Linked DNA regions of Homo sapiens: region 1 is linked to region 2. Evidence: fine-mapped expression QTL. A gene starts in region 2. The other region holds a variant in brackets. All regions are shown on one strand. Distances are from middle to middle.

The links. PIP is the estimated chance that this variant, and not a neighbour inherited with it, causes the effect.
Region 1: its variant is fine-mapped to the expression of TTYH1 in subcutaneous fat (FUSION, PIP 0.95).

Annotation. Positions count from the first base shown.
Region 1 is chr19:54,390,009-54,395,384 of GRCh38, forward strand. No RefSeq gene overlaps it. Among named protein-coding and RNA genes, the nearest start is that of TTYH1, 23 kb to the right of the region's middle. RefSeq lists an enhancer at 1,441-1,988. The variant A/G (reference allele first, on the strand shown) is at 2,747.
Region 2 is chr19:54,412,742-54,418,117 of GRCh38, forward strand. TTYH1 (tweety family member 1) reads left to right here and starts at 2,723. Exons shown (of 14, transcript NM_020659.4): 1 at 2,723-2,937. The coding sequence starts at 2,812. LOC124904770 (LIM domain-containing protein A-like) reads left to right here and starts at 4,361. Exons shown (of 1, transcript XM_047439797.1): 1 at 4,361-5,376. The coding sequence starts at 4,395.

The sequences.
Region 1 (5,376 bases), 23 kb before region 2:
CCCACCTTGGCTTCCCAAAGTGCTGGGATTACAGGCGTGAGCCACTGCACCTGGCCCAATTTTATTTCTTATTATTTTGCATGCCATTGTGAATGTATGAAGTGTTTCTCTCTTTATTTAGATCTTTAATTTCCCTCAGCAATCTTTTGTAGTTCTTAGTGTACACATCTTGCATTTCTTTATTAAATTGGTTTCTATTCATTTTATTATTTTTGAGGCTTTGTAAATAAAATTGCTCTCCTAATTTCATTATTGAATTATTTTTGTCAGTATATAGACATATGATTGATTTTAGTGAATATGTCTTCATCGTGCTAGGATTTTTGTTGTTGTTGCTGCTGTTGTTGTTATTGTTGAGACAGAGTTTCGCTCTTGTTGCCCAGGCTGGAGTGCAATGGCGCAATCTCGGCTCACTGCAACCTCCACCTCCCGAGTTCAAGCAATTCTCCTGCCTCAGCCTCCTGAGTAGCTGGGATTACAGGCATGCACCACCATGCCTGGCTAAGTTTTTGTATTTTTAGTAGAGACGGGGTTTCACCATGTTGGCCAGGCTGGTCTCAAACCCCTGACCTCAGGTGATCCACTCCCCTCAGTCTCCCAAAATGCTGGGATTACAGGCATGAGCCACCACATCCGGCTCTTGCTAGAAATTTATTGTACTTTTCAGCTTCATAATTTCCATTTAGTTTTATGCTTTAATAATATCCCAAGGTAACATTATGGTCACTTTCTGTAACTAATATTTCTTACTCTGTTGATTTATCAGGGGCTGGATTACTCTCCTTCAAGTTTCCTGTGCTAGCCTAATGGTTTGGATGTTGTTGTTCAATGCAATTCTCCTTTATTTTTGTTCCATTTATTTTTAGCAGCTTTGTTTAGCTATAATTGTTCTACTAAAAAACCTTCTCACTTAATGTACACAATCAGATGAATTTGGACACATGCAATAACCCCTTGGAAGACATTCACGTGCATGCGTTGTTGGTTTTTCCGCTTCTTACGGGAACTCCTTTCAGGCATTTCCATCTCCACGCTACACATGGGGAAATAGAGGCTCACAGAGGAGAAAGGACGTGGTTCAGGTCACACCTGTCCCTGGTCCTCCAGGCTGAGGAGCAGAGAGACCACCCACCTTAGTGCTGGAAGGGTTTAACACATAGCTTGGGCTCCCTCTTGTGGCCACAGTGGAGAAACTCCCTGCTTAGTTCATTTTTATTTTTTCCATCTGGCATTCATTTTTTTCATTCAGTAAGTATTTGTTGGTCCTGTCCTGTGTGCCAGACACTGTTTGAGGCTCTAGAGGTCCACCAATATAGAAAACAAACACCCTTTCCATGGAAGAGCTTATATTCTTGCAGAAGGAGAGGGGCAGTAACCCACAGGCATTATACAGTCACAGTCAGCTAGAAGGTGAGAGTGATTTGGATAAATGAGAAAGTGCAGCGGTGGTCCAGGGGGTCTGGAGGGTGCAAAGCTCAGCAGGGGGAATAGTGTGGCAGTTGCAGACAGAGGGGTAGGAAGAGGGAAGTGGCAGGAAGAGAATGCAGAGGGGTGAGGGTTGGGGCCACAGGTCCTGTGTAGAGCCCTGTTGGTCACCATGATCACCCTGAGTGAGCTGGGAAGTAACACAAATGACTCCAAATAGAAGCGCCTTCATGGAGCCTTCTTCTTCCCAGACTTCAACTAGAAACCTGAGCTGCCTGTCACAGCAGGGGACGTGTCATCCCATTAGACTTCAAACGTCCTCAGCAATTCCCTGCCCCCTTCTTTCTAGGAGTCAGGATTCCTCAGCCTTGCTCTAGAACTGCATCTGGTGACCCCTAGAAACCTGTCCTGGAAGCCTTACAAGGCTCTTCACACTCACAGTTTGTGATATGACCCCAGAGTTGTGCAGTGCACAACCTACACAGCTGGACACGATGGGCCTGGCACTCTTCCTCTGTGCTCCCACTGCACTCTGTGCTGACTATGTCATTCCACTGGGTGGTGCCATGTCAACTTCTCTCCTCTCCTCTCAATATCCTGTAAGGATAAGATAGGATCAAAGTTCTACCCACGTCCCTGGTACTCAGAAGAGGAGCTGAAACATTGGCGACCACTCATTAGCACTCTACTTAACAAAACAAATTGCCCAGGTAGTTATGATTAGATTTCTATAAAAGGCTGAATAATTACAGAAAGGCTCTAGAAACTAGTGTATAATTATGTACAGGCGCTGGCAGTGTGTAGAGTCATGGAAATCAGCTAAGGAATCGCGGTGCAGTCTCAGGAACCAGCTGGATAATTGCACCAGGAGCTCCCAAAACCAGCTGGATAATTATAGTGGAGTCCCTGGAACTCAGCGGGTAATTACCATGTACTCATGGAATCAGCAGTAATAATAGAAGGGTCCCAAATGCAGACACTAGGGAAAGTCTGGAGACACTTTTGATTGTCACAACCCAGAGGAGAGGGGGATGCTTCTGGGTGGTGGGGGGTGGAGGCGGGGGATGCACAGGACAGCTCCTCCCCCAAGGAATAACCTAGCCCCGAAAGTCAACAGTGTTACCCAGAAAAAAACAGGGTTCCTTTGCCTGGTGAGGAGCAAACAACTCTCCCGAGAATGCAGGTGATGTGGTTTGGCTCTGTGTCCCCACCCAAATCTCACCTGGTATTGTAATGATCCCCACGTGTCGATGGGGGGCAGTGACTCACGCCTGTAATCCAAGCACTTTGGGAGGTTGAGGCAGGCAGATCATGAGGTCAG[A/G]AGATCGAGACCATCCTGGATAACACAGTGAAACCCGTCTCTACTAAAAATACAAAAAATTAGCCGAGCGTGGTGGCGGGCAGCTGTAGTCCCAGCTACTCGGGAGGCTGAGGCAGGAGAATTACTTGAACCTGGGAGGTGGAGGTTGCAGTGAGCTGAGATCACGCCGTTGCACTCCAGCCTGGGTGACAGAGCGAGACTCCGTCTCAAAATAATAATAATAATAATCCCCACGTGTCATGGGAGGGACCTGTGGGAGGCGACTGAATCACGGGAGCAGGTTTTTCCCATTCTGTTCTCGTGATAGTGAATAAGTCTCACGAGATCTGATGGTTTTATAAATGGGAGCGCCCCTGCACGCTCTTTCTTGCCTGCTGCCATGTAAGACGTGACTTTGCTCCTCCTTCATCTTCCGCCATGATTGTTAGCCCTCCCCAGCCAAGTGGAACTATGAGCCCATTAAACTTCTTTCCTTTGTAAATGAACCAGTCTCGGGTATGTCTTTATTAGCAGCATGAGAACAAACTAATACAGAGGTTTTGATCAAGAAGAGTTTTATGACTTGACACAGCTAAGGAAGGCACTGGGTGTATTCTTCAAAGCAGTGTCTCCCTGAGGAAAAGGGACAGGAGGGCTCTATGGGGTGAGGGAGCAGGGAGAGGGCGCGTCGTTGTATGTGGAGGAGGGTCCCAGTCACGCAGATGCAGCGAGTCGTCATACCAGCACACGGGTCGCATGTTACGGTAACGAGACTACAGCTCCTCCCGGGATGGAGACTTGAGCGCAGCAGTGCAGAAAGTTCACTCGGGTTCATCTCTAAGTTGCCAGGGCCCGTCAGAGGCTGGTTCCAACCAACGAGTGGCCGCATTCCACACAGGGTTTGGAGAAAAACAGGCTGCAGGGCAGAAGGCTGTGAAACAGGCTGATTGCTCAAGTTGATTAAATTCCTATAATCCCTGGAGACCCTCCCTGTCTCCATACAGTAGTGCTTGGGTTGAGAAATTTTCTTTAAAAGACTATTTTTAGCCGGGCGCAGTGGCTCACGCCTGTAATCCCAGCACTTTGGGAGGCCGAGGCGGATGGATCACGAGGTCAGGAGATCGAGACCATCCTGGCTAACACGGGGAGACCCCGTCTCTACTAAAAACACACAGAAAAATTAGCCGGGCGTGGTGGCGGGCGCCTGCAGTCCCAGCTACTGGGGAGGCTGAGGCAGGAGAATGGTGTGAACCCGGGAGGTGGAGCTTGCAGTGAGCTGAGATCGCGCCACTGCACCCCAGCCTGGGCGACAGAGCGAGACTCCGTCTCAAAAAAAATAAAATAAAATAAGAATAAGAAGAAGAAAGAAGAAAGAAGAAGAAGAGGAAGAGGAAGAGGAAGAAGAGGAAGAGGAGGAAGAGGAAGAAAAATGTTTTAAAAAGACTATTTTTAGAGCAGGTTCAGGTTCATAGTAAAATGAGGGGAAGGTAGAGATTTTCCATGTACTCCCTACGCCGACACCTACATAGCTTCCCCCATTACCAGCGTTCCCTACCAGAGCGGTATTTTTATTACAACTGATGAGCCTGCATTGACACATTGTAATCACCCAAAGTCATATTAGGGCTCGCTCAGTCTTCCTGTTGCACATCCTATGAGTTCAGGCAAATGTCTAATGGCAGGCACCCACCGTCACAGTGTTAGACAGAGGAGAGCCATTGCCCTAAAATTCCTCTGTGCACCACCTATTCATCCTTCCTTCGCCCAACCCCTGGCAGCTCTGATCTTTTCCTGTCTCCATACTTTGCCTTTTCCAGAATGTCATATTGTTGGAATCAGACAATGCGTAGCCTTTTCAGATGGGATTCTACCACTTGGTAATATGCATTTAAGGTTCCTCTGTGTCTTTTCATGGCTTGAGAGCTCATTTCTATCTATCTATCTATTTATTTATTTATTTATTTATTTACTTATTTACTTATTTATTTATTTTTGAGATAGAGTCTCGCTCTGCTGCCCAGGCTGGAGTGCGGTGGCTGTGATCTCGGCTCACTGCAAGCTCCGTCTCCCAGGTTCAAGCGATTCTCCTGCCTCAGCCTCCCGAGCAGCTGGGATTATAGGCACCTGCCCCCACGCCCGGCTAATTTTTGTATTTTTAGTAGATGGGGTTTCACCATGTTGGTCAGGCTGGTCTCGAACTCCTGACTTTAGATGATCCACCCGCCTCGATCTCCCAAAGTGCTGGGATTATAGGCGTGAGCCACCATGCCTGGCATCATTTCTTTTTCTTTTCTTTTCTTTTCTTTTTTTTTTTTTTTTTGTTGTTGTTGTTGTTGTTGTTGAGGCAAAGTTTCACTCTTGTCGCCCAGGCTGGAGTGCAGTGGCACGATCTCAGCTCCCTGCAACTTCCGCCTCCCGGTTTCAAGTGATTTTCCTGCCTCAGCCTCCCAAGTAGCTGGGATTACAGGCGCCTGCCACCACGCCTGGTTAATTTTTGTATTTTTAGTAGAGATGGGTTTCCCCATGTTGGCCAGGCTGGTCTTGAACTCCTGACCCTGTGATCTGTGGGCCTTGGCCTCCCAAAGTGCTGGGATTACAGATGTGAGCCACCGTGACTGGCTAATTTTTGTGTTTTTAGTAGAGATGGGGTT
Region 2 (5,376 bases):
CAGAAACTTTTTACTTTTTTTTTTTTTTTTTTTTTTGTGTGTGTGTGTATACTAGATCATAATGTAAAATGTATTTCTCACTGTGGGTTGTGGCCCTATCAGTTGGAAACCACTCATCTAGAATATTATCCATATGGAGAGGGCTGATGCAGGGCCAAATGATGGAGGGTATAAACTCAGGGCTGAGGGTGTGACTTGATTCTATGGGCAACGTGGAGCCACTGAGCTCTATTGGGTTGCACAGTCACCACCAGCACCTCACTGTCCTGCACTCTGATGTACACATGCCCAACTGTGCACATCATGACGTTTGGAATTCTTCCCATTAGCAAATCCTGCTGCTACAACAAACACTGGCTGTGGACATGATGCAAGAGATTGTCAGAACAAGAGTTTTAGAATATACTAATCTTAGCCCTAAAGGGTTAAGCCTTCATTTTACAGACAGAAAAAGAGGGACTCTAAGATGAAAAACTACTTGCCTAGAGTCACTTAATACACCTCTAACCGCTCATCTCGGGATCTTCTTCATCCCCAAGCCCCATGTAGGCCACCTGGTTGGGAATGGTGGAGAACATGACTCTAGCCAGAACCAGAGAAAGCTGAAGAAGACCTAGGGTAGTGATGAGAGAGGGTGTGTGTGTGTGTGTGTGTGTGTGTGTGTGTGTGTGTGTGTGAGAGAGAGAGAGAGAGACAGAGATAAGGCGCCTATTCTCACTCTCCCATTTCATCATCAATACCTTCACCAATATCACTATCCTCCTCCTCACCGTCATCATCATCGTCCTCATCACCATCATCACCACCATCATCATCATCATTATCATCATGACATGTCAACATAATCTTGTCTTCACCACCATCATCATCATCACTATCATCATCATCATATCCTCATCTTCACCATCACCATCACCACCACCACCACCATCACCACCACCACCACCATCACCACCGTCACCACCATCACCATCACCAACATCATCACCACCATCACCACCATCACCAGCATCATCACCACCATCACCACCATCACCACCACCACCATCACCACATCACCATCACCACCATCACCACCACCATCACCAACATCATCACCACCATCACCACCACCATCACCAACATCATCACCACCATCACCACCATCACCAACATCATCACCACCATCACCACCATCACCATCACCAACATCATCACCACCATCACCAGCATCATCACCACCATCACCACCATCACCATCACCAACATCATCACCACCATCACCACCACCACCATCACCAACATCATCACCACCATCACCAACATCACCACCACCATCACCACCACCACCACCATCACCAACATCATCACCATCACCACCATCATCACCACCACCATCACCACCATCACCACCACCACCATCGCCACCACCATCACCATCACCAACATCATCACCACCATCACCATCATCACCACCGTCACCACCATCACCACCACCATCATCATCATAATTATCATCATGACATGTCAACATAATCATGTCTTCACCATCATCATCATCATCACCATCACCATCATCAACACCACCACCACCATCATCATCACCATCACCACCATCACCATCATCATGACATCATATCACCAACATAATCACCACCATCATCGTCATCACCACCACCTCCGCTACCACCAGCATTCCTCTTTTCCCTAGCCCTTTCTTGCCAATCTGGAGCAAAATATGGAAATGGGTTAAGTGGAGAACTAATCTCCCTTTCTTCCACTCATCCCAATTCCCACAAGAGAGGCCACGTGTGTGGTTTCCAGATGGCAAAGTCTCACCCTGCCCTACAGCAAGAGGGGACCCCTGGGGCCAGATTCCTGAGCACCTAGTTTTGGCTGCAATAGTGACAGTCTGGGTGATGATGTCAGGGTGGCCAGGTCCCCTCCCAGGGTTGGCACTTCCCCATCTATCGGTGTGGCATCGGAGGATTCCAGTGAGATGTAACATGGGGAGTGGCTGGAAAAATACTCTGTAACTGTATGGCGAATGCCAAGGGGCAGGGGTCCTTGTATACACCGAAGTAATCCCGAGTCAGTTTACAGGATGGGAAGGGCCCCTATATAGATGACCAGGGTCCTTATGCAGGTAGAAGGGGTCCTTATGCAGCATGAAGGCTTGCTACACAGGCGTGTGGATTTTTCCATACATTCTGGAGTAGCCTCTACACATAGGAGTGTTTGTGCTTAGAAGCTGTGTCCTTATGCAGGCTAGGAATAAAAGTGGGACGGAGATTTTACACAAATACGGGCATCTTTTACAGGTGGGAGCACTTTCGTACACAGAGGACTTCTTATCCATGGAATTGGCCGTTCTTTGTAAAACGCTCTGTACTTACTAGCAACCTTTACACAGACATGAAGTTTCTCCATAAGGATAAAGGGATCATTATGTTTTAGGTGAAATAACAGTATGAGTGGCCTCGTATGGACAAGGAGGGCTGATTTCAATCGCGATGCAAGCCAGCTGTCCGGATGCCGCCGACGCCAGCAGCGCGGTACCTGCGCGGGCAGCAGGTGGGAGCCGCGACCGGGGTGGGGCGCGGAGCGCTGGGGGCCTCCCGACTCCCGCAGTCCCCGCCGCGACCACCAGGGGCAGCACCGTCCCCGCCCGGCCCGCGCCTCCCTCCCCCCAATCTCCGCCCCCCACCCCCTGCCTCCCCCCCGCTCCCGCTCCCCTGAGCCCAGCCAGACCCCGCGCCGCCCGCGCCCCGCTCGACTCCGGAGGCTCCCGCAGCCCCGGCGTCCGCCCCGCTGCCCCCTCCCCCGGGGGCCATGGGGGCGCCCCCGGGCTACCGGCCCTCAGCTTGGGTGCATCTCCTCCACCAGCTGCCCCGCGCCGACTTCCAGCTCCGCCCGGTGCCCAGCGTTTTCGCGCCCCAAGAGCAGGAATACCAGCAGGTGGGACCGGGCGCCAGGGCCTGGGGGCCAGGGCTGGGGGCCGGAGCTCCTGGGTCCCGAGGGAGAAGGGGGCTGGGTCACAGATTTCCTGAGCTCCGCCGGAGGCTGGGGGCCGGCCCGGACTTTGGGGTTTCGGAGGGAGGAGGAGCCTGGGGGCGCCCATGCCTGGAGGTTCTCCTGGGACGCGCGCTGGGGGTCCAGACCTCGAGCTCTCTAAATAAGGGAAGGCTGGGGACCTGCACCCCTGAGTTCATGGAGAGGAGGGGAGGGGGGCCCGGATTCCCGGGTGTCTGATACCTGCCTGGGAAGCCGGCCTCCAGGGTCATCGGGAGGGTAGGTCTACTCTTCCTGCCCTAAAAGATGACCCTGCCCCACAGGATCAGAGCAGGTGAATATGTCCCAGATAAGGTGGGACCCAGGAGACAGCGGACCTGATAACGGTGGCGGGGAAAACGCTGGCTGCTGCGGTGCTGGGATGGGATTGAGAGTCTGAAATGGGGAAGGGGGCTTCAGGGGCTGAGGACCAGGGCTGGAAAATGAAGGGGCTCTGGGAGAGGAAGCTTCTTGCCCGTCCCAAGAAAGAAGGGGTGGTCAGGGCGCTGCAGGGGTGAGGGCCGAGATGAGGCTGGGTTTGGGGAGCCTCGGGATGACAGACCCGGGTCCCGAGGGTGGGGCCGGTGTGGGAACCTCACAGAAGCCGGTGTCCCTGGGGAAGGGGCCCGGCTCGGGGCAGCTCCAATGGGCGAAAGAGCTGTCCCCTGACCCAGTTTAATTCAAGTCCTTGACTTCGAGATTAATGAGGAGAAAGGCTTGGCTGAGCTGGGGACGGGTGGGGGTGCTGGGAGTCCCGATGTGGCCCCAGGACGGGTCCTGGCCCTGCTGATGGGGCCTGAGCCCCTGGGCTCCGTCTTGGGTTGCTCCTGGGAGAAGGGGGCTGGGATTGGAGAGCTCAGGGGGCGTGGAGGGGGTCCCAGAAAAGCGCGGAGGGGATGAGTGCTGTGTTCTGAGCTATTTGGGTCACGGCTGGCACAGCCCTGAGCAGCTCTTCCCCGCCTGCTCCTCGCCGCCCCCTCTCCCCACACACGGGGACCGCCGTCCCCTCGCCCACAGCCTCGCGGTTACACAACGGCCACCTCCAACAACGCCGCTCCACCGGCTCCGGCCTCGGCCCAGACTCACGCCCGCTCTGGCCCGGAGACCTCCCGAAGCCGCACGCGGGGATCCGCGGCCCCAGTCACCGCCAGAGGCACGGGTTTGGGGGAGCCTCACTCCGCCCCCACGGTCGGGGGTCAGGGTCAGGGTGGCAGGGATGCGCGGGCAGAGCCCCACAGCCGAGGAGGGCAAGGGGGACCCCTGCAGGGACGCGACCACCGTGGGTACAGCTGCAGACACAGCCAGGGCCTCAGGGACACTGGCCCGGGGGAGGCACACAGCCACACGCACACACTCACTGGCATATGCACAGCACACACACACGTCCACTTACTCCCATTACACACTCACATGCACACACATATGCACAGGCACACCCAGACACGCCCACTTATTCCAACACACTCACATGCACACACATATGCACAGGCACACTCAGACACACCCACTTACTCCCATTACACACTCACATGCACACTCACATGCACACACTCAGACACGCCCACTTACTTTCATTACACACATGCACACACACATATGCACAGGTACACACACACGCCCACCTACTCTCATTACACACTCACATATGCACACACACATACCCATTTACTACTCCCGCTATGCACTCACACCCACATACAACACACGCATATAGACACATGCATACACTCACATGGATATACCCACTTACACATACACAATCACACATATGCACACGCACATTGCGCACAGTGACTCACAACACACACATACACATGTATAAGCATTTACTCCCATATACAAGCACACACTGCACTTATATATATATGCTTACACACTCATGCATGCACCGTCACATACACGTTTATACTCCCATACACACACACACGTACATTCCATTCACATCTACACACACATGCACACACATATTGACTATAGCATTCATGTGCACACACACACTCACATGCAGTCACGCATCCACACACACACTCATCCACACTGTTACACACACACAACCGGACCCACTCACAGGCCCAAGGAACTGTGCCCAGAACACACAAATGCCCACAGATGTTCTCATTTGCAGACAGCAGTGCACCCAGGAGACACACTCAGGTGCCCCCTCATCTCATGGAGACAGCCCAAAGATAAAAACATCCAGTCTCAACCAGAAACACAAACACTGCACACACTTGGGACACACACACACACACACACTGTGCCACTGTGTGTGTGTATGTGTGTGGACAAAGGCAGAAACACCGTGGTTTAGGGGAAACAGCCTTGGCAAGTCCAGAGGTGTGACTC